2 separate regions of the Homo sapiens genome follow, and region 1 is linked to region 2. Evidence: fine-mapped QTL for protein levels in blood plasma. Region 2 holds a variant in brackets. A gene starts in the other region. All regions are shown on their forward strands.

Region 1 (14,915 bases), not on the chromosome of region 2:
AAAAAAATCCTCTGGGGAAGAGTGGAAAGAGGATTGGTCATCTCGGCCATTTACTACATAAATGACTTTCGGCAAGTTACCTCTGCACCTGTAAAATGGAATAATGGTACCCAATAGTTCTATTAAACATCTGTTGAGGAAATGTATGTGTATGTGTTTTGTACAATATTTATACTTTTAGATTTGCCTATGTAAAAATGAAAACACTCGTGGGAACAGTAAATCTTAAGTAGTTAACATAACTTTATAGAATAATTTTTTTTTCTCTTCAGACGGAGTCTCACTCTGTTGCCCAAGGTGGGGTGCAATGGCACGATCTCGGCTCACTGCAACCTCTGCCTCACCGATTCAAGTGATTCTCCTGCCTCAGCCTCCCGAGTAGCTGAGGCTACAGGGGTGAGCCACCGCGCCCGGCCTAGAATAATTTTCGATTGCTGGTTGAGCAGAGCAAGGCCAATATGAGTTGAGGAAAGCAGAGATGGAAAGGCTCTTTATAGTTAATGATTTCTCATTTTTGCTTTGCTTCCTTTTGCCAAAGTCGGCTTGTCATCTGAGAGTGGAGAGGATTTGTTAGATCTTATGAAGCCAGAGCTCACTTCTGATGTGAACCAAGTATTAATAATTTTGGTGGTGGTTTTCTGTACTGCATCTGAGAGAGTAATCATTGTTCTTTGAAGATGCAATAATTCTACGCTACTACGGGACTTAGGGAAATAATTTTTGAGGATAGGAAGCACAGAATAATTAAGATGACAAGTCTTCCTGCCTCAAAATCATATCACTCTGATTCGAATAAAAAATACCAAGGTTTTTCCTTCTTGAGGTTTTATACTCATGGAAGTTCTTCAACCTGAGGTCTGAAAAATAAGGCAACCCCATCCTCTCCTTAAACAGGTTAGAGCCAGTACCTTTTTATTTCTCTATGCACGGACAAAATAATTATGCAAAAAAAAAAAAGAGGCAGGTTTTGTTTTTTTTTTTGCACTACTGAAATTCACACTTAACATATAAACAATCTGCTATATGCAGACAGCACTGGTGTTTAGAGTTCAATGATCTGGATTCAAGCCTATTTAAAACCAGATAAGAGAAAGTTCCCAAACATCTATGTGTCTTGGATTCTTCATCTGTAAAATTGCGTTGTTGAGAAGATAATATGAGACTAGGCGCGCAAAACAATTTGTTAGAGCTATTATTTCTAACCCGGAATGTGTTCGCTGGCAGTAACAGTGCATTAGTTACGATTCATCGAGGGCAGCTTCTGGACTTTCTGTTTGGAAGCCCAGCTGAGGCAAAAGCAGCAGTGCGTTTAAAAATTGGAGCTCGCCACATTCTGAAATTCTTTCGGTTCGTGAAAGCAGTAACCTAGGAAACGAGACTGGCACCACCCCTTTCAGTCCTAAAGCTTGGTTTCTCCCGCTTTTCTCCATTATGTTTAGGGCATCGCTATTTTACAGTCTTTTTGTTTTTTCTTTCCACATCATTAGCACAAAAGAGAAATTCCCCTTCTACAGAAGCAAGTACAAAACCTTTCTAGTCGCTCCTTTTTGGCAGCAGCTCACCTACTATTTTTTTCTATTCCGCGGTCGCAGCCCCAGACGTCCTCAAAGACAAATATTTTCGCGAGGGCCAGTGTAGGGCAGGAACTCCCTAGGCCTTGAATCAAGGGAATCCAGTAGATAACAACAGAAAGGACTCCGACCCAGGTACCTGAGACATCTGAGACCGCCAAAATTAACACAACACCCTACGCGACAGAGAAAACTCTGGGCGGGGAGAGAGAAAGAGAGCGAGCGAGCGAGAGAGAGAGAGAGCGAGAGAGAGAGAGAGAGAGAGAGAGAGAGAGAGAGAGAGAGAGAGAAAGAGAGCGAGCGAGAGAGAGCGAGAGAGCGAGAGAGCGAGAGAGCGAGAGAGCGAGAGAGAGAGAGAGAGAGAGAGAGAGAGAGAGAGAGAGAGAGAGAGAGAGAGAGAGACGAGAGGAAGCAACGTTCTCGCGACAAGAGGGGTGTCGACGGAAACTCGGAAATGGTCCCCTAGACGACCCGGCCCCAGCTAGTGGGTGGGGCCAGGGTACATCCGCCCCTTTCCGGTTTTTTTCCCCGCCTCCCAACCGTGAGGTGTTGGGTTTGGGGGACGCTGGCAGCTGGGTTCTCCCGGTTCCCTTGGGCAGGTGCAGGGTCGGGTTCAAAGCCTCCGGAACGCGTTTTGGCCTGATTTGAGGAGGGGGGCGGGGAGGGACCTGCGGCTTGCGGCCCCGCCCCCTTCTCCGGCTCGCAGCCGACCGGTAAGCCCGCCTCCTCCCTCGGCCGGCCCTGGGGCCGTGTCCGCCGGGCAACTCCAGCCGAGGCCTGGGCTTCTGCCTGCAGGTGTCTGCGGCGAGGCCCCTAGGGTACAGCCCGATTTGGCCCCATGGTGGGTTTCGGGGCCAACCGGCGGGCTGGCCGCCTGCCCTCTCTCGTGCTGGTGGTGCTGCTGGTGGTGATCGTCGTCCTCGCCTTCAACTACTGGAGCATCTCCTCCCGCCACGTCCTGCTTCAGGAGGAGGTGGCCGAGCTGCAGGGCCAGGTCCAGCGCACCGAAGTGGCCCGCGGGCGGCTGGAAAAGCGCAATTCGGACCTCTTGCTGTTGGTGGACACGCACAAGAAACAGATCGACCAGAAGGAGGCCGACTACGGCCGCCTCAGCAGCCGGCTGCAGGCCAGAGAGGGCCTCGGGAAGAGATGCGAGGATGACAAGGTAAGGACGACCCTTTTCTCTTCAAACCCCATGGTTTCTTTTCTCCCCGGGGTCTGGGGCGGGATGTTAATCCGCTAGCTGTTGTCTTATGCCTTCCAGTATTTCAGTCCTGAAGGCTCCTTTCACCCCCAACAACCCTGTTTCTGTCAGACTTTTCCCAGTTTATCAGTGCCACGTTCTCTGGTCCCTGCCAGAAAAAAATGACTGTAAATTCTGGTTCTCAAGAGTGGACTGTGTGCAGATGCTGCCTATTCTCTAAGCTCAGCTGGTGAGTTGGCAGTAGTAATCATCTGGCCTGTGTGGCCCCCTTACCTTCAAAGACACACAAATCTGGCGACTGCCAGGTTTGGTGTGGTTATTGTCTCATTTTTATTCCGTGCACACTGATCAATATTAATTTCGTTATTTAAAGAACGAAGCCGCCTCTGACTCCTCTACTTATGGTAGTCATCATATATTTTTTAAGCTGTGTGACTTTTAAAATCTCTATAGGGTGATGTATTGAATAACTAAATAATCAGCTATGACTGCCTTTTTGTGATCAAAATGTTATGATAGATGGGCCCTCGAGCTATATGTGAGACACACTTGTGTCTTGGACATAGTTGATCCATCATTATCTACTCAATTTGAATTGTTAATGAAATCAGCCAAAAGATTAGAATCTGAAAATAAATTTTAAGCAGTGGAATGTCATGTCAGTGTCTTCATTGAAAGAAAATAGAATGAAATTTTGTATAGCTAAGTTGCTATTAGGGTTGGTGTTTTATGCAGATGGAAAACTATACAAAGTTTTAAATATAAAAAGTTTAAAATTGAACTGTAATCATACTTGCTACTAAATAATCCTTGTTTTCATTAGCTCATTGGTAACTATATTAATAGTTTATGACTTAGCAACTTCTGTAGGTATAGTAGAGTTATGAAAATTTCTGGGCAGGATAGTAGATGCCTTTCTATACACTTCTTTGGTAATCTTCACATTTTTGTGTGTAAATGCCCATTATAATTACAAGTTTTACTTTGCATATCAAAATCACTTAAGGGTAAGTCATTATGAATTAAACTGTCTGTGAGCTTCTAACTTTCCTGTTGACAGCCTCTACCTGGCTTTCTTATTTCATGAAGATTAAGGCCCTCAGCTAAGTGCTTCCCTATAACCCCCTCCTCTTCACCATAACATAGACATGCTATGATAGGGTCAAGGAATCAGTACATTTATATGTGCGCTGCATGCTTAACTCTAAAGACTGAAAAACTCTCGGGCAGAGTAGGTAGAAATCCATGAAAGTTTGGAGTATTAAAGTAAGGTCTTCCTACTTGGCATGGTTGAGCATTACAATTCACATTCTTCTCTCTGGTCTCAAAGGAAAGTCTCTTGTTGTAATTAATACTCTTGATTCCATTCTTTCATCCATTGGACTTTTTGTTGTTGTCGTTGTTGTTGTTGTTGTTGTTTTTTGAGACGGAGTTTTGTTTTTGTTGCCCAGGCAGGAGTGCAATGGCGTGATCTCAGCTCACTGCAACCTCCGCCCCCCCGGGGTTCAAGCAATTCTCCTGCTTCAGCCTCCTGAGTAGCTGGGATTACAGGCATGCACCACCACGCCTGGCTAATTTTGTATTTTTAGTAGAGAAGGGGTTTCTCAATGTTGGTCAGGCTGGTCTTGAACTACCAACCTCAGGTGATCCGCCCGCCTCAGCCTCCCAAAGTGCTGGGATTACAGGTGTGAGCCACCATGCCCAGCCTCTTTTTTTTTTTTTTTTTTTAAAGAGACAGGGTCTCATTGTGTTGCCCAGGCTGGAGTGCAGTAGCTGTTACACAGGCATGATGCACTATAGCATTGAAATCCTGAGCTCAAGTGATCCTCCTGCTTCAGCCTCTGAGTAGCTGGGACTGCAGGTGTGCACCACCTTGCCCAGCTCTACTGAACTGTCTCTTTCAGTTTGTTTCACTTTTTACCTTCAACAGTATGTGGGTGTCCCCTGTTCTCAGTAAAGGAAAAAAAATCTGTATATTCCTTTCTCCCAACCAACCCATTTGTTTTTTCACTTTCATTGCTAAAGTCAAATTATTGATGGTCTACAAATGTTCCATCTACCTATTTTTTCATAACCATCCTAATCTTAAAATGTCTGCCATCTTTCTTTCCTCCCCTTTTTTGAAACTATTCTCTTGAAGGTCACAAATGGCAGTCTTCCTAGTCAAAACCAAAGAATATTTTTATTCTTACTGTATTTGACCTCCCAGTAGTTTGATCCTGTTGATTGTCTCTAGCTATTTGGAAACTATTTTCTTTCTTGCTTCTGTTATACTGGACTCTCCAGTCTTATCTTCTTCACTATATTCTTTGCTGGATTTATTTTTTCTTTCCAGTCACCTAGTAAGGGACTCTGTTATTGAGCCTTTGCTCTCCCATAAGAGCAGTATTCCCCAAAGTAGTGTTAAACAGAATACCCTTCTTGTAATATTTCTTAGGTGGTGAGGAGAAAAAAATGAAAACCTTTTTTGGAGGGAAATGTTAGTGTATCCTCCTCTTGGAATTCATAATGCCTGCTGGAATATAAAAGCTCTGAGAAATCCATTAATAAAGAAGGCTATTCAATTTTGTTTAACTCAGTCTTGTTTAGTTTATTTGATCACAGGTTACTATTTTCATGGCCTACCTATTATGGCACAGAATAATATAGCAAAGCCCACTAGTTTGGGAAATATTGCCCTGGGTATCTTAACTACTTTTAAGTGTTTGGCTAATATTTTATGCAGCTGGCTCACAAGACTGTATCTCTTATTGAATGTCAGTTCTGTGTGTGTATATGTGTATACATACATATATATATATATATATTTTTTTTTTTTTTTAGACAGAGTCTCGCTCGGTTAAGCAGGCTGGAGTACAGTGGTGTGATCTCGGCTCACTGCAAGCTCCGCCTCCTGGGTTCACGCCATTCTCTGCTTCAGCCTCCTGAGTAGCTGGGACTACAGGCGCCCACCTCCATGCCCGGCTAATTTTTTGTATTTTTAGTAGAGATGGGGTTTCACCATGTTAGCCAAGATGGTCTCGATCTCCTGACCTCGTGATCCACCAGCCTTGGCCTCCCAAAGTGCTGAGATTACAGGCGTGAGCCACCGCACCCGGCTAGTTCTGTATATTTTTAAAAGTTTTTTCTTTTTTTAGTTTTGTAGAGATAGGGTGTTGCTATGTTGCCCAGGCTGCTTTCAAACTCCTGGCTCCAAGTGATCTTGCCTTGGGCTCACAAAGTGCTGGGATTCTAGGTGTGTGCCACAGCACTTGGTGTGCCACTTCTGTATTTTGAGCTGGCTATAACAACTTTCTTGGGCTGCTTGTGAATGTCTGTTCTTGGGGTTAATGAGGACTCTCTGAGCTGCTTAGTAGAAAGGGTAGTCTTGGTCTCTGTATTTTAAACTTAACAGTTTTTCAGGGTTTTTTTTATTGTTATTGTTGTTTGTTTGTTTTGAGACAGGGTCTTGCTCTGTCACCCAGGCTGGAGAGCAGTGGTGCGATCATAGTTTACTACAGCCTCAAACTCCTGGGCTCAAGCGATCCTCCCACCTCGGCCTCCCAAGTAGCTGGGACTATAGGTGCATGCCACCATGATGGTCTAATTTTTTATTTTTTGGTAGAGATGAGGGTCTTATTATCTTGTCCAGGCTGGTCTCCAGTTCCTGGCCTGAAGTGATCCTCCTGCCTTGGCCTTCTAAAGTGCTGGGTGTGAGCCACCATACTTGGCCACTTAACAGTTTTAGATCTGGAAAATTATTGGAAAATTAGATCTGGAAAACTAAACAAGTGATCCTCCTGCCTTGGCCTTCTAAAGTGCCAGGTGTGAGCTACCATACCTGGCCACTTAACAGTTTTAGATCTGGAAAATTATTGCAAAGATAGTACAGGGAGTTTTTATATACCCCACACCCAGTCTTCCCTATTATTAACATCTTAACATAAGTATGATGCATTTGTCACAATTAATGAACCAGTATTGATATCTTATTATGAAAGTCCGTACTTTATTCAGATTTCTTCAGTTTTCGCCTGCTGTCCTTTTTTAATTCCAGGATCTCATCCAGAGTTACGTTACATTTAGACATTATGTCTTCTGAAGCTTCTTTTCAGCCTTTCCTTGTTTTTTAGACCTTTTCTTGTTTTTGATAATCTTGACAATTTTAAGGATTACTGATTAGGTGTTTTATATAGAATGTCCCTCAATTGGGAATTGTCTGAGTCTTTTCTCAGGATTAGACTGGAGTTGTGGGTTTTCGGACAAAGACCACAGAAGTAAAGTACCAATCTCAACACATCATAACATGGGTATGTTTTTCAAAATGATTTATCACTACTTATGTTAACCTCTATCACCTGGCGTGAGATAGTGCTTGTCAGGTTTCTCCACTATAATGTACTCTTAAAAAAAATCTGTTTCCATACTGTACACTTTGGAAGAAAGTATGTTCACCCTCACTTAATGAGTGGGTAGTTATGTTTTTCCTCCTTAAGGACAGAGTATCAACATAAACTATATGGAATTCTTCTGCAAAGGAGATTTGTCTCTTCTCCCTCATTTATTAACTTAATAATTTACTTGTATCGGTATGGACTCATGGATATTTATTTTGTACTTTGGCTTATAATCCAATATTAGTTTATTTTTTTGTTGCTCAAATTGTTCTGGCTCTGGCTGTTGGAGAGCTCCTTCATTAACTCCTGTATCCCCTTCTTACTTTTATAGTGCCAGAAAGTACAGAGAATTTCCACATACCCTACACCCAGTTTCATTGTGACATACCCCTTTCTTACTTTTTGGTACTTTTAGATGCTCTAGGCCTATCTATACGTTTCCTACTCCAGCCCTAGAGTCAACCATTTCTCCAAGGAACCTTGGTTCCTTTTATTGGAGAATGGCATTAGAAACCAAGGTCTGCAGCTGGGCACGGTGGCTCACGCCTGTAGTCCCAACACTTTGGGAGGCTGAGGCTAGTGGATTTCTTGAGGTCAGGAGTTCAAGACCACCCTGACTAACATGGTGAAACCCCATCTCTACTTAAAAATACAAAAATTGGGCCAGACACGGTGGCTCACGCCTGTAATCCCAGCACTTTGGGAGGCCGAGGTGGGCAGATCACAAGGTCAGGAGTTCGAGACCAGCCTGGCTAGCATGGTGAAACTCCGTCTCTACTAAAAATACAAAAAATTAGTCGGGTATGGTGGTGCGCACCTGTAGTCCCAGCTACTTGGGAGGCTGAGGCAGGAGAATTGCTTGAACCCGGCAGGCAGAGGTTGCAGTGAGCTGAGATCACGCCATTGCACTCCAGCCTGGAGGACAGCGAGACTCCATCTCAAAAAAAAAAAAAAAAACACCACCACCACAAAAAAAAACAAAAATTAACCGGGCATGGTGGGGGGCGCCTGTAATCCCAGCTACTTGGGAGGAGTATCGTTTGAACTGGGAAGCAGAGGTTGCAGTGAGCCAAGATTGTGCCACTGCACTCCAGCCTGGGCAACAGAGTAAGACTCTGTCTCACAAAAAAAAAAAAAGAAACCAAGGTCTGCTTGGCAGATATGCTCGTTGCTACTATAAGGTTATCTTTGGAAATCAAGGAATCCTTTCTCCAGAGGAATCAGAAAGGTGATATTTGGTTTCTTTCACATTATTATGCCATTCTGTCACTTCCAGTCTGTTACCTGGGTTACTAAACACATAAATTCCTTTTTTTTTTTTTTTCTGAGATGGAGCCTCACTCTGTCACCCAGGCTGGAGCGCAGTGGCGCAGTCTCAGCTCACTTCAACCTCCACCCGCCGGGCTGAAGTGATTCTCCTGCCTCATCCTCCTGAGTAGCTGAGACTACAGGTGCATGCCACCATGCCTGGCTAATTTTTGATTTTTTAGTAGAGACAGGGTTTCACCATGTTGGCCAGGCTGGTCTTTAACTCCTGACCTCAAGTGATCTGCCCACCTTGGCCTCCCAAAGTGCTGGATTACAGGCATGACCCACCACATCCGGCCTTGAACATGGAAATTCTTTAAGGGAGCTTTAAGTTGCTCCTGTCTTGTCCAAAGAAGTGAGAAACAACCCCCACTTCTCTGAGATTCCCTCAAACTTTCTGATTTTTTAAACTTCCCTCTAAAGGGTTTCAGCCTGGAGGGGTGTATTAGTTTGCTAGGGCTGCCATAACAAAATGCCACAGACTAGGTGGCTTAAACAGCAGAAATTTATTTTCTCACATTTTTGAAGGTTGGAAGTCTAAGACCAAGGTGCCAGCAGGGTTGTTTTTCTCTGAACTTCTCTCCTTGGCTTGCAGATGGCAACCTTCTTGCTGCTTTATTGTGACATGATAGTCCCTCTGTATGCACACATCCTTGGTGTCTTTTCCTCTTCTTAAAAGGATACGAGTCATATTGGATTAGACCCACTGTAACTTAAGCACTTTAAAGACCTTGTCTCCAAATACAGTTACATTCTGAGATCCTGGAGGCTGGGACTTCAACATGTGAATTTGGGGGAAACACAGTTCATCTTAGAACAAGGGAGATCCACCACACATACACACACACACACACACACACACACACACAGACACCCTTTTATTTCCTCTTTTATCAGAAAAGTCCTTATTTCTCTTTCCTCAGTACAGGGCATGTCTCTTAACTTTGATTATTATTCTCTCTCTCTTTGTCTTTTAAAGAGATGGGGTCTTACTACATTGCCCAGGCTAGAATGCAGTAGCTATTCATAGGTGTGATCATAGCACACCACAGCCAGGAACTCCTGGTCTCAAGTGAAGGTCCTCCTGTTTAAGCCTTCTGAGTAGCTGAAACTACAGGTGTGCACCACTGTGCTTGGCTCCTAAACTTGGATTCTTGCAAACTGTAGCTCATACTAAAGCTATGTGGTCCAGCTGTGGCACGTCAAGCTCTTGATAAATAAAAGGAGCTGTTAGAATGTAGAAAAAGTCCTCAAAATTGTCGTTTTATTACACACATACACACACATACACACACATCAGTTTTGAGGTTTGAAGCTGAATAGTAAATGACCTTTTTTCCCTTTAACAACCATAATTTTCCTTGAGGCAGCCTATGCCTTTAGTTGAATGGGGAAAAGGTCATATGTCAGAAAGGAGGATGAGAAGCGTATTACAAAAAAATGCTTTTTGGGGGAAAATTTTGGAATATAATAGTAGTCTCTCTTATTCTTGAGAGGTTTGAGTAAATTGATTAAAATTCTTAAAACAGTGCCTACTACATTGTTATTCTACAGCTACTTCCTTATTTCTTTTCTGCCTTTTTTCCAGGATGGGACTCTGTCTGTGTTCCTGCCCAAGATCTGGTCCCAGCCCTAGCCTACCTGCCTCACCCTTTGCTCCTGAATGTCTGACTGTTTTTGTTATTTGCTTGTTTTCAGTTTCCTGGTTCATTTCCAGTTAGGCTTAGTTGGCTCCTCCCATAGGTGTCTTAGCTGACTCCCTAGAGCTTGCCTGTTCTTCTGTAATTTGAGTATCAACCTTCTACAGTTCTAATATGCTGCACATGATAATTCCTGCCTTTGCCTCTGCCTCACCAGCCATAATCTGGCCAACTTTTAACTGTAATTTCTACCTCAAATTATTCATAAACCAATCAAAACTGATAACTCTTCCAAACGATATCCCTTTCCTACCTTCTTGGTTCCTATAAATGATGCCCATGCAACTGTTATTTAAGACTGAGGTTAGAAATTTGGTGTTGTCTTTGATTCCTTCAGTGTATCATATTGAGTGCTTCAACATGCAGAGGAGTTACTTGATCGAATTAAAAAAAACGTCATTCTGACTGCAGAATAGAGAACTTGGCAGATCCCTAACTAGTCCCCTTTCCTTGGTCTCCATTTCTTTTTGTCAGTTCTCCTGTGAAGCCAGCCTGAACTTCCTCAAACCTTATTTTCAGAGTGGCTGTATGACTCACTGACTACATCAGGTTAGAATTCTGCTGTCTCATCTTTAAGGTCTTCCATAGAATGGCTCTAGCTACCTTTGTCTCCCACTATCTCCTGACCCAAATTGTATTTCAGGCTGATTGTTTTGCTTACTTTTGCCTTCCCACCTGCCTTTCTGTGTCATGTTAATTCCTGTTTCTGTGCCTTTGTTCCTGCTGTTTGACTCTTAGTTTCTTGCCTCTTTTCTGTATATTTATTATACCAATTTTTTTTTGTTTTTTTTTTTTTAATTGAGGCAGAGTCTTGCTCTGTCGCCCAGGCTGGAGTGCAGTGGTGTGATCTTGGCTCACTGCAAGCTCCGCCTCCCGGGTTCACACCATTCTCCTGCCTCAGCCTCCTGAGTAGCTAGGACTACAGGCACCCGCCACCAGGCCCAGCTAAATTTTTTGTATTTTGAGTAGAGAAGGGGTTTCACCATGTTAGTCAGGATGGTCTCCATCTTGATCTCCTGACCTCATGATCCACCCGCCTTGGCCTCCCAAAGTGTTGGGATTACAGGTGTGAGCCACCGCACCTGGCCTTTTTTTTTTTTTTTTTTGAGATGGAGTCTTGCTCTGTTGCCCAGGCTGCAGTACAGTGACGCAATCTTGGCTCATTGCAACCTCCGCCTCCCGGGTTTAAGCGACTCTCCTGCCTCAGCCTCCTGAGTAGCTGGGATTACAGGCACGCACCACCAGGCCTGGCTAAATTTTTTTGTATTTTTAATAGAGATGGGGTTTCACCATGTTGGCCAAGCTGGTCTCGAACTCCTGACCTTGTGAACCGTCCACCTTGACCTCCCAAAGTGCTGGGATTACAGGCATGAGCCACCACACCTGGCCTATTCTACCAATCTTTTATCCAGCTTCTGATCCATGTCCACTATGAAGCCCCCTGGGACTTCTGACCTGGAATATGCTTTTCCTTCTTTTCTTTTTCTTTTTTTTTTTTTTTGAGATGGAGTTTTGCTCTTGTCGCCCAGGTTGGAGTGCAATGGCGCGATCTCAGCTTACTGCAACCTCCGCCTCCCAGGTTCAAGTGATTCTCTAGCCTCAGCCTCCCAAGTAGCTGGGATTATAGGCACCCACCACCATGGCCGGCTAATTTTTTTTTTTTTTTTTGTATTTTTAGTAAAGATGGGGTTTTACCACATTGGCCAGGCTGGTCTCGAACTCCTAACCTCAGGTGATCCACCCACCTGGGCCTCCCAAAGTGCTGGGATTACAGGTGTGAGCCACTGCTCCCAGCCATGCTTTTCCTTCTTTATACACCATTTACATTTATTGTTTGAGCTTCATTAACTTATTTTGTTCATTTTTTACTAATAGCTTATTGTTTGTGAACTTCGTTTTCTCAACGAAATTTTAAGTTCCTTGAGGAAGGACTATGTTTTAAATTTTTTCCTGCGGGAAAAATTGTTCTTAGTGCTGTTACAAAATGTACGAGGTTGATTTGTATCCCCTAAAAGGATATATTGAAGTCTAAATCACCTGTGAATGTTATCTTAGTTTGGGAATAGGGTCTTTGCAGATGTAATCAAGTTAAAATGAGGTCATACTGGATTAGGGTGGCCCCTATTCCATTATAACTGGTATCCTTATAAGAAAAAAAAATAGAATTAGGGAGAACACCAGGTGCATGAATACACAGAGACACACAGACACATTGCAGAGACCGCATGGCAGATAAAGGCAGAGATTGGAGTTATGTTTCCACAAACCAAGGAATGCCCAGGGCTACCAGAAGCCAGAAGCCAGGAGCCTCCCCCTAGAGGCTCCAGTGGGAACAGGGCTTTGCCAACACCTTGATTTTGGACTTCTAGCCTCTGAAACCATCCTCTAGCACTGTGAGACAATACATTTCTGCTTTATGCTATTCAGTTTGTGGCACTTTGTTATATCAGCCTAGGAAACAAATACACAAATGCATACTTAAAAGTTAATTTGATTTTTTGACTAGATAATTGTTTTTGTTTTTTTTTTTTGAGACAGAGTCTCGCTCTGTCGCCCAGGCTGGAGTGCAGTGGCGCGATCTCAGCTCACTGCAACCTCCACCTCCCGAGTTCAAGTGGTTCTCCTGCTTCTTCCTTCCGAGTAGCTGGGATTACAGGCACGCACCACCACACCCAGCTAAATTTTGCATTTTTGATAGAGACAGTGTTTCACCATATTGGCCAGGCTGGTCTTGAACTCCTGACCTCAGGTGATCCGCCCGCCTCGGCCTCCCAAATTGACTAGATAACTACTCTTATATAATATATACTGTGTGGCAGTATGGTTCACTGGAAAGAACAAGGGTTTTTGGAGTCAAACAGACTTGAGTTTATAATTCTACCATTATGTTACCTCTCCTTAAGCCTGTTTCTTCACTCATAAAATGAAGAGGATTCATGAAGTAAAATATTTAGAGGCCTGTCCCATACAAAGCTTGACATTTAATAATATTGGTTCCTTTCTTTCATGGGTGCATTGGTATAGCTAATCTTGAAGAAATTTGGGGCTAGGTGTAGTGGCTCATGCCTATAATCCCAGCACTTTGGGTGGCTGAGGCAGGAGGATCATGTGAGGCCAGGAGGTTGAGGCTAGCCTGGGCAACATAGCAAAAAAAAAAAAAAAAAAAAAAAAAAAGCTGGGCATGGTGACACATGCCCATAGTCTTAATTGCTTGGGAGGTTTAAGCTGGAGGATCACTTGAGCCCAGGAGTTTGAAGCTGCAGGGAGCTATGATTGTGCCACTGTGCCCTAGCCTGACAACAGAGCAAGACCCTGTCTCAAAAAAAGAAAGAAAAGGAAAAAAGAAAAGAAGAGAGGAGAGGAGGGGAGGGGAGGAGGAAAGAGAAGGAAGGAAGGAAGGGAGGGAAGGAAGGAGGGAAGGAGAGAAAGAGGAAGAAAGAGGGAGAGGGAGAGGGAAGAAAGAAAAGAAAGGAAGAAGGGAGGGAGGAAGGAAGGAAGAAGTTTAGTCTTGTATTATTCTATTGAAACCCAAGTATATTAATTCAGTTGACAAAAATTTATTAAATATATTGGGCACTTACTGTGCTATACACTAAAATGATCTTTGAAACAAGTTTTCACTTTTCTTTGTCTCCCTTTCTTATTTTTGTATTTCTCTGTTTTTTCTTACTCTCCTGATAAAGGACTGAGTAATCTCAGGAGGTTCCATGAAGATCATAAAACAAGCTGCTTTTTGAAAAATGATGACTAGGATTTAGTTGTGCAGAAAAAAGGTAAAAGGACATTCAAGGAGCTCCCTTTTACTTACTCCATAGAGGCAAACAAACAGTTCTTATAGTGTGGCATGTAACATCTGTCTCCTGAAGTGACAGGGAGTACCTTTTGACTTATGACCTCATTAAACAGGAGGAACTAGTCCTTACAATTTTTGGTTGAAGACCTTAAAGTTCCCCATGTTAGCCTCTTCCTCAAAAGAGAGTTAAAGTTTCCTTGAATTCAAAGTCCAGGCTTTTTTCTAGGGACAGACTGGGCATGCAGTAATTTCAGTTTCTCACAGTGCTTCAAGGCTCTCTTTCTTGTTCTTAATTAACTTTATCTAATTTTCTTACACTGTTTCTGGCCAGGTAGTTCCTCTTTTGAACAATGTTGCCACAGAGCTTTTGCTCAGATGCTTTTAATGTCTGATTCTTTCTCTTTTCCAAACTACACTTTTTCCCTGAGGATGACTTCAAAACTTACATCCACGAAGCTTTTTCTATTTAATATAAAATGATTTGCTTTCCTTTTACAATTTCAATTTTCTATATCCAATTTAAGTTCAACTTAGGGGAACATTTTTTCTCATTTGATGATTAACAAAGGCCTCTCATAGCTCACTGCAGCCTCAGACTCCTGGCCTCAAGTGATCCTCCCGCCTCAGCATCTCAAAGTGCTGGGATTACAGGCATGAGCCACCATGCCTGGCTACATTTTCACTCTTAAACTTGACTCTCTATAGCATTTTATACTGATGATCTCTCCTTTCTCTCCTTTTTGAAACTTCTTCCCTTTAGCTTTAATAATACCCATTTATCTTGGTTATCCTATCATTTTCCCACTCAATGTTTACATATGCTGTGCTTCCATCTTTAACCCCATTTTAATTTCTTTATTGAACAAATATGTTCAAGTTTCTATTTTGGATCAGTTACTATGCTGCATGCATATCACATAGTGAATGAGTGAACAAGACAGATATGGTATACATTGACTATGG
Region 2 (15,193 bases):
CAGAGTCTGTTGAAGGCTTGCCACTTCGAAGGGAATGCTTGTACATTAGATGGTGGCTAATTTTGGTCAGCACAGCTCTTAGCACAGTAGCAGGTACCCATCTTCCACTGCAGGCCTATAGCAGGCGGCTAAATGTGTGTTCCTAGCGCTTATAGAAACCAAGGTGGGCAAAAAGGACCCTGTCCTCCAGATAGTAGGCATCTGTGCTCTGATCACTGATGCTGCTTCTGATTGCAGAAGTTTGACGAAGTAAGAATGGCTGCTGTTGTTGTACCTCCCTCAATTGTTGCAAGCCCCTCCCCCGCTGGCTAACGTTACTTCCAGGGGATTTAAAGGGCTGGCACTTTTTTACCCCTTCGTTTTTGCCTTTTTCCTTTCTCGGGAGTCAGACATAGAAGACCAGGACATTCAAAACTGCTAATACAGGGAAATTTAGAAAGTCACCACACCTGCCCAGAGGAAGGCACAGGCTCAGAGAAAACCTTAAGTTTAAACCTCAGGCTGATCCTTTGCACAGAGACAGTCTATAACAACAACAAAAACAAAAATTCAAAAATGAATAACAGCAAACTCTGAGGAAGGGGAGAGTCTGGTTTCCAGAGGTACATTATTAGATTTAAGTGTCCACTTTTAAACAAAAGGTCACAAGGCGGCCGGGCGTGGTGGCTCATGCCTGTAATCCCAGCACTTTGGGAGGCCGAGGTGGGTGGATCACGACGTCAGGAGATCGAGACCATCCTGGCTAACATGGTGAAACCCCATCTCTGCTAAAAATACAAAAAATTAGCCAGGCATGGTGGTGGGCACCTGTAGCCCCAGCTACTTGGGAGGCTGAGGCAGGAGAATGGTGTGAACCCGGGAGGTAGAGCTTGCAGTGAGCCGAGATTGCGCCACTGCACTCCAGCCTGGGCAATAGAGCAAGACTCCATCTCAAAAAAAAAAAAAAAAAAAAAGTCACAAGGCAAACAATGAAGTATGACCCATCGAAGGGAAAAAAATGAAGTGTCAGAATCTGTCTCTGAGTAAGACCATATGACAGATCTGTTAGGCAGAGACTTTAAAACAGCTGTCTTAAAGGTGCTGAGGCAACTAAAGGAAGAGACATGGAGACAGTCAAGAAAACAATGTATGAATAAAAAGATAGAAAACCTAAAAGGAAACCAAAAAGAAATTCTGGAGATGAAAAGTACGCTAGAGTGATTCAAAGGCAGATTTGAACAGGTAGAGGAAAGAATCAGTGAATCTGAAGATAGGACAGTGGAAATTTTTGAGCCTGAGGAACAGAAAAACAGAAGAAAAATGAACAGAGACTGAGGGACCTTTGGGACACTATCAAATGGACCAACATACACACTCTGGGAGTCTGAGAAGGAGAAGAGATAGAGAATGGGTCAGAGAATATTTCAAGCGGTGATGACTGAAAACTTCCCATATTTGGTGAATGTGAATATAAACATCCAAGAAGCTCAACAAACTCAAAGTAGGATGAACTGAAAGAGACCCACACCAAGATATAATCAAACTGTAGAAAGCCAAAGACAGAATCTTGAAAGCAGTAAGAGAGTGACTCATCACATACAAGGGATCCTCAGTAAGTTTGTCAGCAGATACCTCATCAGAAACTTTGGAGACCAGAAGTCAGTGGGCTGATACATTCAAAGTTCTAAAAGAAAACTGTTGGCCGGGTGCAGTGGCTCACCCCTGTAATCCCAGTACTTTGGGAGGCTGAGGCGGGTGGATCACCTGAGGTCGGGAGTTCAAGACCAGCCTGACCAAGGTGGAGAAACCCCATTTCTACTAAAAATACAAAATTAGCCAGGCGTGGTGGCACATGCCTGTAATCCTAGCTACTTGGGAGGCTGAGGCAGGAGAATCTCTTGAACCCGGGAGGTGGAGGTTGTGGTGAGCTGAGATCGCGCCATTGCACTCCAGCCTGGGCAACAAGAGCGAAACTCCATCTCAAAAAAAAGACAAAAAAACAAAGAACAAAACAAAACTGTCAGTCAAGAATCCTACGTGTAGCAAAACTGAGGGAGAAGTTAAGACATTCCCAGATAAAATTTGAGGAAGTTATTACTATTAGACCTGCCCTGCAAGTATTGCTGAAGTGAGTCCTGCAGGTTGAAATGAAAGGACACTAGACAGTAACTTGAAGCCATATGATTTCAGTAAAGGTAAATACTTGGGTAATTATAAAAGCTCATATTATTGTAACAATGGTGTATAACTCCATTTTTTTTGTTTTCAACGTTATTTGAAAGACACATTTTTAAAAAGCCAACTATTACTGTAAAATCTAGTATTATTATAACTTTGGTTTGTAACTCCACATTTTGTTTTCTACATAGTTTAAGAGACTAATGCATTAAAACTTATTTTATGTTTTTGGACACAATATATAAAGATAGGCTTTTGTCACAATTGTGACAGCAGTTGAAAGAGGCGGGGATGGAGCTGTTATAGGTGCAGAATTTTTACATATTGATGTTAAGCTGGTATAAATTTAGAGTGTTATAACTTTAGGATATTAAAAGAGGTACAAAAAGGCTATGAGACATACAGAGAACGAAGGCATATAGAAAGCAAAATGACAGAAGCAAGTTTCTCCTGAGCAGTAATTACTATAAATGTAAATAAACTCTCCAATTAAAAAGCAGAGGTTGGCAGAATGGATTTTAAAACACCATACTCCAACTATATACTGTCTACAGGAGACTCACTCTAGATCCAAAGACACAAATAGGTTGAAGTAGAAGGATGGAAAAGGTTATGCCATGCAAATAGCACCACATGATCCAGCAATTTCACTTCCGTGTATATACTCAAGAGATTTGAAAGCAGGGTCTTGGCCGGGCATGGTGGCTCATGCCTGTAATCCCAGCACTTTGGGAGGCTGAGGCGGGTGAATCACCTGAGGTTAGAAGTTCGATTCCAGCCTAACCAACATGGTGAAACCCCGTCTCTACTAAAAATACAAAAATTAGCGAGGTGTGGTGGTGCATGCCTGTAATCCCAGCTACTTGGGAGGCTGAGGCAGGAGAAACACTTGAACCCAGGAGGCGGAGGTTGCAGTGAGCCGAGATCACGCTATTGTACTCCAGCCTGGGCAACAACAATGAAACTCCGTCTCAAAATTAAAAAAAAAAAAAGCAGGGTCTTGATATTTGTACACCCATGTTCATAGCAGCATTATTCACAATAACAAACTGTGGAATCAACCACAGTATCCATTGACAGATAAATGGACAGAGGAATGAAATGTGGTGTACACATACAATGGAATATTTAGCCTTAAAAAGTAAGGAAGTTCGGCCGGGCGCAGTGGCTCACGCCTGTAATCCCAGCACTTTGGGAGGGAGAGGTGTGTGGATCACAAGGTCAGGAGTTCAAGACCAGCCTGGCCAACATGATGAAACCCCATCTCTACTAAAATGCAAAAATTAGCCGAGCATGGTGGTAAGCACCTGTAATCCCAGCTACTTGGGAGGCTGAGGCAGGAGAATCGCTTGAACCTGGGAGGCAGAGGTTGCAGTGAGCCGAGATCCTGCCATTGCAGTCCAGCCTGGGCAACAAGAGTGAAACGCTGTCTCAAAAAACAAACAAACAAAAAACAAAAATAAGGAAATTCATACAGAAGCTATAATATGGATGAATTTTGAGGACATTATACTAAGTAAAATAAGCCATTGGAAAAAAGATAAATACTATAAGATTCACTTATATGGGGTACTTAGAGTAGTTAAAATCATCAAGACAGAAAGTAGAGTGGTGGCAGCCAGGGGCTGGGGGAAGGGAATGGGGAATTGTTTGATAGGCACAGTGTTTCAGTTTTGAATTGTGGAGATGGATGGCAGTGATGGTTGCACAGTATGAACGTATTTACTACCACTGAACTGTATGCTTAAAAATGGTTAAGACGGGCATGGCGCAGTGGCTCACGCCTGTAATCCCGGCACTTTGGGAGGCTGAGGTGGGCGGATCTCCTGAGGTCAGGAGTTCGAGACCAGCCTGACCAACATGGTGAAACCCTGTCTCTACTAAAAATAAAAAATTAGCCGGGCGTGGTGGCGCATGCCTGTAATCCCAGTTACTCGGGAGGCTGAGGCAGGAGAAGTGCTTGAACCTGGGAGGTGGAGGTGGTGGTGAGCTGAGACTGCGCTATTGCACTCCAGCCTGGGCAACAAGAACAAAAAGAAAAAAAATAGTTAAGATGTCAAGTTCTTGGATCTGTAGGAAAAAAAATGGTTAAGATGGCAAATCTTATGTATATTTTGTCACAGTAAAAATTGGAAAAAAAACTATGAGGTTCGTATACCTATTAGTTAAAACTTTATGCTTTCCTGCTTATATTAGCATATATTATGTTTATAGCCCTTAATAAGTATTTTTGGAAGACGGGATTAATTGGATGAGCAGATAAGTGTGTCTTAGGTTTTGGAAGAAATCTTTATATTTTACAGAATATATAAGACAGAGTCTCTATAGTTAATGCCTTCTTGGGCCCATGCATGTAGAGAGTGCTCTCATTGAGAGCCTAGCAGGGTGTTTCCTGTGGAAACCCTCTGTGTTGTATGCCAGTCATGCTGGTTGACTTGTGTTGGGAAGTCGTGAAGCACAGCAGAGTGGATATTCTGTGTCTGTGTTTGTGTGTTTATATCTTCTACTTACACATTGTATAATCTCTAAAGAAAAACCAGGTGAATTAAGGTCATCTCCGTGTAATGTGTGAGTCTTTCTTGGAATTTGGAAAAAAATACTAAATTATCAATATTGCTATAATCTGCTTTTGTCCTTTTCTGTTACACTTTAGGACCTAAAGTGATCCAGACTTCTGCGGCTAATTTTTCACTAAATAATAGCAAAAAGGTAAGACTGGGTCTGAGTGGCAGCTGGGTGGTGGGGTGCATTATAAACCTCAGGTCACTGAGAAATGGTTCCGCTTAGAGTCTTTAAGGTAGCCTTCCCTTGCCTTGCGGCTTCTCAGGCAACACATTTCTTCTTCCATTGTCAGCTGCTGGCATCTGGGTTCTTGTTTGCTAAAGTCACCATTTCTGCTGTAATAAACACCTCAGTACTTAGGAAGATGGTGGTGTTACCTCTTAGGGAGCAGTTGTTCATTTCCAAAGAGTGGCTAACTCATCCTGATTCCTTGCCTCTGTAAGTCCTATCAGATTGTAATTTTTAATAATGATACCACTTAGGTGTCTCATCTTATATTTGCCCAGGTTAAGAATTGGCCTCTGTCAGATTTCTAATGGTACATTTCTTTCTAATGATTACTTTGTATTCCTTGTGTGAACTCAATTTAAATGAAAAATCCTTTAAAAAATACACCTTAACTTGGCCAGGTGAGGTGGCTCATGCCTGTAATCCCAGCACTTTGGGAAGCTGAGGTGAGCTGATCACGAGGTCAAGAGATTGAGACCATCCTGGCTAACATGGTGAAACCCCATCTCTACTGAAAATACAAAAAAATTAGCTGGGCGTGGTGGGGGGGCGCCTGTAGTCCCAGCTACTCGGGAGGCTGAAGCAGGAGAATGGTGTGAACCCGGGCGGGGGAGCTTGCCGTCAGCCAAGATCGTGCCAATGCATCCAGCCTGGGTGACAGAGTGAGACTCTGTCTCAAAAAAAAAAAAAAAAAAAAAGCCTTAACTTTTTTACCACCTTTAGAGAAAAACAGAGCTTCTTTCAATTGGAGAATTTTGGTTTCCTTGAATAAATACTAACCTGTGAGAGCCCAGACAACTAAACCTTTTTTTGTGTGTGAAACATAACTTTACCTATAAACTGAACACAGTTGCCCTGTATCTTCGAGGCACCATGATATATATAGTTTAAATCTGATTGTATGACCCCAAATCCCCCTTCTCTCTGTTCTCACACTTCCCTGCTAGTTTTCTACCCTTATAATTTTGCAAAAAGTCAAAAGAAGAAAAAGTACTAAAACTTACACCATTTGATTTTTCTCTTTGCTACTGCTAGTTTGAAAGGGCCCTCTGCATAGCCTGTTTTCACATTTCCTTTGCATTGCTTTATTTTCTTTCACTGTTGGCGTGATGATCTGATTTGAGGAGGTGCCGCCGTGGGCTTTCCTGATAGTAGTTCATCTTTTACAGTTTCTGTCTCTCAGGGTGTGAGTCTCTCTTTGACACTGAACACAGCAGCCATTCCACTGAACTGACTTGCTTCCAAGAGACCATCCTCACTTCACTAAGACAGTAGCTCATTCCTGGAGAGATTTCCTGCCTTGATGGTTTTTAGGCAAATCTTTAGTCCTAGGGAGTTTTATTGAGACCCTGACAGAAGTATTAAGACACAAAAACACATTCACTTGAGACTAGCCTGGGCAGCATAGGGAGACTGTGTCTCTACAACAAATTTAAAAATAAGCTGGGTGTGGTGGGGCATACCTGTAGTCCCAGCTACTTGGGAGGCTGAGGTGGGAGGATCTCTTGATCCTGAGAGGTTGATGCTGCGGTAAGCCATGATTGCACCACTACACTCCAGCCCTGGGTGACAGAGCACGACCCTGTCTTAAAAAAGAAAAAAAAAGAAAAAACCCATTCACCTCCAAAGACGATGCATTCAGATAATGCTTTTCTTTGGAACCATGGGTGGGCTGCTTCAGTAACTCTCTCTGTGGCCTGCTGCTATTAAACACCAGTATTACGTCTTTCAAAAGATACTGCAGAAGAATCACTGGCAACATCATCACCTCTAATTTTTCTCCCCAGGGGTGTTAAGATTTTCTTTCAGAAGGCTAAAAATAGCAGACGTCAAAGAGCAATTTGCCTGGCATATGGATACTTCAGAAATAATTCTTGGCCGGGCGCAGTGGCTCATGCTTGTAATCCCAGCACTTTGGGAGGCCGAGGTGGGCTGATCATGAGATCAGGACTTCAAGACCAGTCTGGCCAACACGGTGAAACTCCATCTCTACTAGAAATAGAAAAATTAGCTGGGTGTGGTGGCAGGTGCCTGTAATCCCAGCTATTTGGGAGGCTGAGGCAGGAGAATCACTTGAACCTGGGAGGCAGAGGTTGCAGTGAGCCGAGATCACGCCCCTGCTCTCCAGCCTGGGTGACAGAGCTAGACTCCCGTCTCAAAAAATAATAATTCTTGAGATATATTATCTTGTAAATATGAAAGCATTCCTTTGGTATTCTTTATTGTCTTAGTATGTATCTCATCATTCTGCTCATTTTATTCTTTTTCCAAGATGGTTTTTTTCTTGATATTTAAGTAAGTGTATTGTCCCCAAGGGTCCCAGTGTGAAAAATGTCTGCTTAGAGATTTCTGTGAGAGACAGACGTGAATTGCTGCTGGAAGTTAGTCGTTTCTTCTTCTGAAAGGCAAAATGTCACTTATGTTCTTGAAAGGAAAACCTCATGGCCGGGCGCAGTGGCTAATGCCTGTAACCTAGCGCTTTAGGAGGCCGAGGTGGGCGGATCACCAGGTCAGGAGATCGAGACCATCCTGGCTAACACGGTGAAACTCCGTCTGTACTAGAAATACAAAAAATTAGCTGGACGTGGTGGCGGGCGCCTGTAGTCCCAGCTACTCGGGAGGCTGAGGCAGGAGAATGGCGTGAACCCAGGAGGCAGAGCTTGTAGTGAGCCGAGATCGCGCCACTGCACTCTAGCCTAGGCGACAGAGTGAGACTCCATCAAAATAAAAAAAAGAAGGAAAACCTCACATATTTCTGTTTCAAAGCTAACACTGAAGCCTTTATTGCTAAAAGTAAACTTTGTGTGTTAAAACGATGAGGTATTTGGTAGACTCAATGAAAAGGTCACATGGATTACTTTGTTTTTTTTTCTTCAGCTAAAGCCAATTCAAATACTTTCAAATCCACTGTCTACATACAATCAGCAACTATGGCTGACATGTGTTGTTGAGTTGGATCAATCAAAAGGTATGGAGCTTGACATTTTGGAATGATTTTTCATTATACGAAGAAACATCGTATTTTAGATGTTGACTTCAGAATATTCAGACAAGCAAGTGCTCAAAGATAGATGTATAAGGATGTCCATTATTATTTATCATAGCAACAAATTGGAAACCCCTTAAATGTCTTCCAGTGGGAGAGAAAGTTGCGATAGATAGACGTCCTCCGTGGAGTCCTGGTTAGCTCCGCTCAGTGGCTGCATGGTGTCGGCGCTACAGCTGCCAGCCTTTTTCAGTGAGGATCTGGGAGAGAATTAAGACCTGATGCCCTAAAATAATGGTTCTGGCCCCCAGGGACACTTGCCAATGTCTTGAGACAATTTCGTCACACACGGAGAGGAGGAGGGAGTGCTCCAGGCATCTAGTGGGTAGAGGGCAGAGGTGCCGACACCTCCCCCACTTTCACAACAAGGAATTATCTGGCCCAAAATGTCAGTGATGCAGAGGCTGAGAAACCCTCCCCTAATGCATCCATTGTTTATGATGAATTAGCTTCTGTCAGTCTACAGTGGCACTAGTTTTGTATCATCCTAGGGAGAATTGAGAAGATAACCAAATCCTTTTCTGTTCTGTGCCTCACATGAGACACTCTGGTTGAGAAAGAATTTGAAAAGATAACCCCATGACCACAGTAAATGAAGTGAAACAAATATATATTACGAAAAAATTATCCCCTCTTTGTAACATTTTAGAAAGCAAAAAATTCATATTACTACGTATTTGTCTAGAAAATGGTCTGGAAGGATAGACATGAAATATGAATTACGATTATCTCTAGGTGAAATTCTCAGTATTTAATGCTATCTTTATATTTTATGATTTTTTTAAAATGAGAATATAATGAGAAAAACCTATAATCAGAAGAAATAAGAAATCTATTTCTATTTTTGGTATAGAATTTGGTAAGTTAAAAATGTATGTGAGAAATTAAAAATATAAGTTCATTAGCCATGAAATATTTACCCTTTTTTTGTGTGTGAAGTGAAACTGATGGGTCTGAAGTGCAGGTTTTGACATAGACCCCCTGGGTGCTGGGTTGGAATCTAATGGAAAGGCTTTTACTTTGCTGGGCAATTAAGAGATTTTCAAATGTGCTGAGGCCAATGTGGCCTAAGGACCTTAAGCGTTTTCCTGGCTCCAAGGTCATTACAGAGCCAGGAAGGCACCTTTGTAGGTGTGATGTGCCTGGCATGGTCTCTAACACTGAATTTTTTTCTTTTGTAGAAACTTCTATTAAGACAAGCTTTCCCATGACTGTTAA[A/C]GTCGATGGTGTAGCTCAAGATGGAACCACGATGTACATTCATAACAAAGTTCACAACCGGACAAGGACCCTCACATGTGCAGGGGTGAGTGTGTGGGGTGAGCCCCACAGTCAGTCCTCAGGCTGTGTACACGTTTAATTACAGAGCCACTTTCCAGTCTAAAAGATAGCATGGTAAGAGGCTTCGAGAAATTGTTCTTAAGTGAAAAAAATGGAGTCATACCAAAGATGGCATGAAAAAACTTACTTATTTTTACAGTTGGATACCCTTAAAAATTCTTATAAACGTACACATGCATTCACACATCCGTAAACACACGTGTACGCACATATGCATGCACACACATATACTGCTAGCCACCCTGAGCATACACGGTACTTGTTTTTACTGTGTGTGTGACCTTCTGCCCAGTGTGTCCCTAATGAATGTTATGGGCTGCCTCCTCATACGAACGTCTGCCACAGGCTGTGGTCACTGGGTTTTTTTGTTTTATTTTGTTTAGAGACAGGTTTTTGCTCTGTCAACCAGGCTGGAGTGCAGTGGCACAATCACAGCTCACTGCAGCCTCAAACTCCTGGGCTCAAGCAATTCTCCTGCCTTAACTTCCCAAGTAACTGGGACTGCAAGCGTATGCTACCAGGGCTGACTAATTTTCCATGGTCACTCTTGACTGAGGCTTTGGGTTGTTCCCAGCCGAGTGATGCATGCCCTAATCCGTCTGTGTGAAGCCAAGTACCTGGGCCTCTTGGGCGTCAGGGGCCTACCTTTTTGAGCATCTACTTCAGAGCACAGTGTGGCTAAGGGATAGGAAACCTGGGTCCACAGTGGGGAATGAGCCCTCACGCTTGATTTCATTGGCACTGTATTCTGTTCAGAGTCCAAAGAATCAGAACCAGATCCCTGCTAGAGCGAGGAGTCCACCTCAGGCACAACAGGTTACTGGCAGCGTGGAGAACTTGGAGAGCATCAAAACAGGGCAGTGCATTTTCTTATAGGATTAGGAAAGTAATGTCAGAAGCCAGATGGCAAGTAGTTTCTCTGCTGGGTGTCATGCCAAGTACCGTCCACTCATTGTCTCATTCAGTCCTCATGGCAAGTCCATGAAGTAGAAACTACTGTTAGAGCCTATTTTGTAGAAGAAGAAACTGAGGCTTAGAGAGGTCTAAACCATTGCCCAAGGTAACGCAGATATTAAGTGGAGGGCCCAGGATTTAAACCTGTGCCCTTTTATTCTGAAGCTTGTGGCCTTAACCACCATGGATACTGCCTAGTTACTAGTGATACATATACTGGCACTGTTTTTCCTAGCAAGAAAGAATTCAAGGGCTAGGCGCAGTGGCTCATGCCTGTAATCCCAGCACTTTGGGAGGGTAGGGTGGGAGGATCACGTGGGACTGGCCTCTCATTCTGCTTCCAGGGGATGAGTCAGCTTCCAAAGTGTATTTTCCCCATCTATAAAGTTGGGATCAAGCCTTCCCTGCCTGCCTTAGGAAAGCAGTAAAGATCAAGGTGAATAACGTGTGAGTGTGCCTTATGTGTGCAGCCTGAGGCATCCCTGCGTCCCCCAGTGAGGCCTGTGTGCGGGAGGGGTGCGATCAGTACTGCTGAAGGGATAACAGGTGTGAGTGTCAGACAGGACCATGGCCCAAGAATCTGCTCTCTTCCTATCCGAGCGCCTGGTGGCCACTCCCACCTGGACAGCTTGATGACACCCACCTCTCAGATTGAGGCTCAATGGACCATTAGTCAGGGGTTGCTTATTTGGAGCTGTTGAGACCCATCGTCCTGGTTTGCTTGCACTGAGTGGTTGCTCAGCACACAGGACTTTGTTTTAAAATCGGGACAAGTGGGTTGCCCTACCTAAAGCCTTTGCTTCAAGCAGGGCCAGGCTGCCAGGGTACTGGCTGGTCTGCACTGTTCCTTCTTGGATGTGCCCGCCGTGCTGTGCATCTTGAGAATGGCCCTTCAGCGCATCTTCATGGTTTCTTCCCGCTTCCGTTGTTGGCCCTACCTCATTTTACACTGTGTTACCCCTTGGGAATATCTTGCTTCTGTTCCTTGTCTACGCAGGTCTCTAACCCTGCAAGGAGCATTGCCCTGGCTTTAAAAAACATGGAATTTTTACATTACAGAGATATTTACCACCCTCTTATATTACTTTTTTTTTTTTTAAACACACAGTCTTGCTATGTTGCCCAGGCTGGCTTTGAACTCCTGGGCTCAAGCAATCCTCCTGCTTCAGCCTCCCAAGTAGCTAGGATGACAGGTGTGCACCACCGTGCCTGGCTTCCTTTTTTTTTTTTTTTCTACTGTAAAGAAAAGCCATTGTCTGACTTAGGTAGCAAGGCTTTCCACGCCTTGCAGGTGGGAAAGCTGAGGTACCATCACGTGATTTTCAGAGGTACATCATTGTCAGCAGCAGAACCGTGGTTTGAACTTGGGATGCCGGAACCGCTGGTGTAGTTTTTTTAAACTCGTAAGTATATGCAGCCTGAGATACAGCTCTTTTGTTAATTAAAACATCCCTGAAAAGTGAGACAAATTCTTAAACTCGCAAGAGATGTTTGTCTACCCAGCAAAAATGTATTTACAGATTTTAAGCCATCCCTTCCTGTATAGTCCTTAGCCACCCCTGCCTTTGCGCATCATCCTGTGACCCGACTGCCAGAGGGGAAAGGTGAATTTAGTTTTGTCGAGAAGGTGGACCACACACTTAAAGCCCAGAGGGCAGGCAGCAGATTGCAATGAGAGCTGATCAGGTGGAAAGGAAGCCTTGGCTTCCCTTTCCAATGTGATGAAAATAGCAGATGACCTGTGCTTCCGGCATAGGAGAATGGGAGGTGGGCGGGTGGCCAGCCAGAGGGCTTTTAGCCCCTTTGCAGGGCAGCCCCTCCCTGCGGAGCACTGTGGGCTTCAGTGCAGACCCAGGGCTGCTAGTGGGCTGAAGTGTTTGGTGAGTTGAGATGGTGACCTTGGTGCTGCCTTCAGCCCCCTGCACACTCCCCTCCTCTCTGCTTTCTCCCCCTTGCCTTAGGTCAGCACCCCACTGTGTTAACCCCACTCCTTGTCCGCCTCCCTGACAGTTGCCCTCTTGTCTTTTTGTTTGTTTTTGTTTGTTTGTTTTTGAGACGGAGCTTTGCTCTTGTTGCCCAGGCTGGAGTGCAATGGCGTGATCTTGGCCCACTGCAACCTCCACCTCCCAGGTTCAAGGGATTCTCCTGCCTCAGCCTCCTGAGTAGCTGGGATTACAGGCGCCTGCCACCACACCCGGCTGATTTTTGGTACTTTTAGTGGAGATGGGGTTTCACTATGTTGGCCAAGCTGGTCTTGAACTAGCCTCAAGTGATCCGCCTGCCTTGGCCTCCCAAAGTGCTGGGATTACAGGCGTGAGCCACCACGCCCAGCCACCTTCTTGTCTTTTTTAAGCCTGCTGTGTAAAACCCACACCTGTTTTCTTACCTGACCTCAGACATTCGAGGCTTGACCAGTCATTGGAGCGATGCCCTATTAGAAAGCCAGAGAACCACCCGTTTGCTCTGGGCAGCAGCAGGATGGTGGAGAGTGACATTCCGAAAGGCAGGGCCGGGGCAGAGCTTGCTGGGGAGGAGTGGCTGGCTCTGTGTGCATGGCTGGTGGGTGCACCTCTGTATCCCTGCATGAGGGTTTGTCCTCCCTGCCACTCCGGAAGGGGATAACAAAGCAGAAGAGACCTGGCTTTTAATTCTAAAGGACAAAAGGAAGGGCTCTTGTCAACAGTGGAGCACACGTATCCTCACATCTGCACTTGGTGCTGTGCACACAGCCTTTGCTTTGACTCGGAGTGGAGGGTGGAGAGAGCAGGATGGAGAGGAAAGAGGGCTCCATGTAGAGAGTGACAGGTTAAAAGGAGAGAAAGAAGAATGTGTAATTCACTCTGTTCATTATTATAACAATCGCAAAATTGGGCCAGGGAGGACAAATTAGGCCGCGGCATCTGCATTGACGTGTCTTAGCTTACGTTTCCCCTGTGCTCTAGTGTTATATATTTATGGAAATGTCAGGCTTGCGTTGCACTGTTAACTTTCTTACACGGTGACTTATTTTCAGTCATCCAAAGTAGAAAGATTCTAATTGGTGTAAATCATATATTATGTTTCCAAAAATACCCATTTGGTTCATTCTTTCTAGGAACTGTGTTTGGCTGGCATCTGACTTTCTCTGGGCTTTTGGCGAGTTCCCTGGAGACAATGAGTTCTGCCCATCTGCTGTTGAAACGTGTTACTTCATGGGTTATTTGGCGGGAGCGTGAGTCTCGCTTTCTTTAAAGGCAAATCTTTCTGTGTATTTGCAGAAATGTGCGGAGATTATTGTGGCTCACCTTGGCTACCTGAACTACACTCAGTATACAGTGATAGTGGGATTTGAACACCTGAAGCTCCCCATCAAGGGAATGAACTTCACAGTAAGTATACCAGCTGACTGCACGTTTCCATGGCTCATGTTCTAGTTCCCATTCTTTGTTCAATGATTGAAATACATCTCAGCATCTAAATAATGTTAATTTGGACAGTGGAGGACTTGTAAAGTTTTTAAAAATTATAGGAAAACTACAGTTTCTTAAGTATATAGAACTAAGAATAGCTTAAATATCATAGAGATTGGGCAAACCTTAGGTGTCTGAGATTTAGAATAGAGAGTATATAGTGTGTTCAGCTGCAAGGCAGTGAAGGGGTTAGCAGACACAGCACCCCCTTCTCTGGCCCCTGTGAGTGGTCGTCAGTCTCTGCCCGAACTGCCGGTGAGTGGGAGGGCACTGTTCTAATTGTTAGACTGTCCTTTCTTGTGTCCAGCTGAAATCTCCCCTTTCCACTCATTAGGAGTCAGTATAACCAGCATAGTGATGAGGAGTGGGGGTTTAGACTGGACGGTGAGCTGGGTTCTCACGCTGCCTCCATCATTGACTCACGTGATTTTGTTGAGCCTCAGTTTTCTTATCTGTAAAATAGCTGCCTCATAGAGCTGTGAATATTAAATGAAGATACTAATGGATACCTTCAAAAAAAAAACAGCTTTATCAAAGTAGAAAGTTTGCTTGCCCTTTTAATGAAAGCGTACGTTCAGTGGTTTTTTTTTGTTTTGTTTTGTTTTTGTTTTTGAGACAGAGACTCACTCTGTCACCAGGCTGGAGTGTGGAGTGCAGTGGCACGATCTCGGCTCACTGCAACCTCCGCCTCCCGGGTTCAAGCAATTCTCCTGCCTCAGCCTCCCAAGTAGCTGGGATTACAAGTGTGTGCCACCATGCCCAGCTAATTTTTGTATTTTTAGTAGAGACAGAGTTTCACCATGTTGGCCAGGATGGTCTTGATCTCCTGACCTGGTGATCCGCCCACCTTGGCCTCCCAAAGTGCTGGGATTGCAGGCGTGAGCCACCGCGCCCGGCCCATTCAGTGGTTTTTAGCACAGTCGTGGAGCTGTCCAGTCATTCTGTTCCAGAACATTTTCATTGCCCCTTAAAGAAACCTGTTAGTGATCATTTCCCATTCCCTCCCCCACAGTCCTTGGCAATCACTAACGTTCTCTCTGTCCCCGTGGATTTGCCTGGTCTGGACATTTCGTGTGAATGGAGTCACACAACGTGTGGTCTTCGGTGACTGTCTGCTTTCACTTAGCGTGATGTCTCAAGGTCCATCCAGGTTGTCGCGGGATCAGTACTTCACTCCTTCATTTTGCTAAGTGATATTTTGTTGTATTGCTAGACCACATTTTGTTAATCCCTTCATCAGGTGACAGGCGTTTGGGTTGTTTCCATTTTTTTGGCTGTTGTGAACTACACAAAATGAGTTTTTTTCTCTGTCTACCCTATAGCCCTTTGCAGGCGGCCGTCTCCTCCCCTCTGAGATTGTTCTTTTCTTTCACGTTGTGCTGGGGATGTGACCTCTGCACCCCTCTGGCTCCATGTTTCCTTCCTGAAGCTGCCCCAGTCACCCAGCTGCAGGGGCAGG

Which allele goes with the higher level. Alleles are on the strand shown, and positions count from the first base shown. The strength of an association depends on the size of the effect and on how common the allele is.
For the plasma level of the protein whose gene starts at base 2,099 in region 1, A is the low allele of the variant in region 2 and C is the other (weak association).

What was found. PIP is the chance, under the fine-mapping model, that this variant and not a neighbour inherited with it causes the effect. The UK Biobank Pharma Proteomics Project read protein levels with antibody pairs (Olink). The fine-mapping took linkage between variants from a reference panel, not from the people measured, so its PIPs are less certain.
Region 1: GOLM2 starts here. The variant in region 2 is fine-mapped to the plasma level of the GOLM2 protein (UK Biobank, PIP above 0.99).

The regions. Positions count from the first base shown.
Region 1 is chr15:44,286,621-44,301,535 of GRCh38, forward strand. GOLM2 (golgi membrane protein 2) reads left to right here and starts at 2,099. Exons shown (of 10, transcript NM_138423.4): 1 at 2,099-2,736. The coding sequence starts at 2,410. RefSeq lists enhancers at 1,158-2,064, 1,446-1,515, 1,911-2,205 and silencers at 2,016-2,375, 9,431-9,725, 13,851-14,145.
Region 2 is chr6:158,576,130-158,591,322 of GRCh38, forward strand. It overlaps TMEM181 (transmembrane protein 181), which reads left to right. Exons shown (of 17, transcript NM_001376852.1): 3 at 4,811-4,866; 4 at 7,825-7,915; 5 at 9,175-9,296; 6 at 13,543-13,653. Among named protein-coding and RNA genes, the nearest start is that of TMEM181, 24 kb to the left of the region's middle. RefSeq lists a silencer at 2,959-3,171. The variant A/C (reference allele first, on the strand shown) is at 9,212.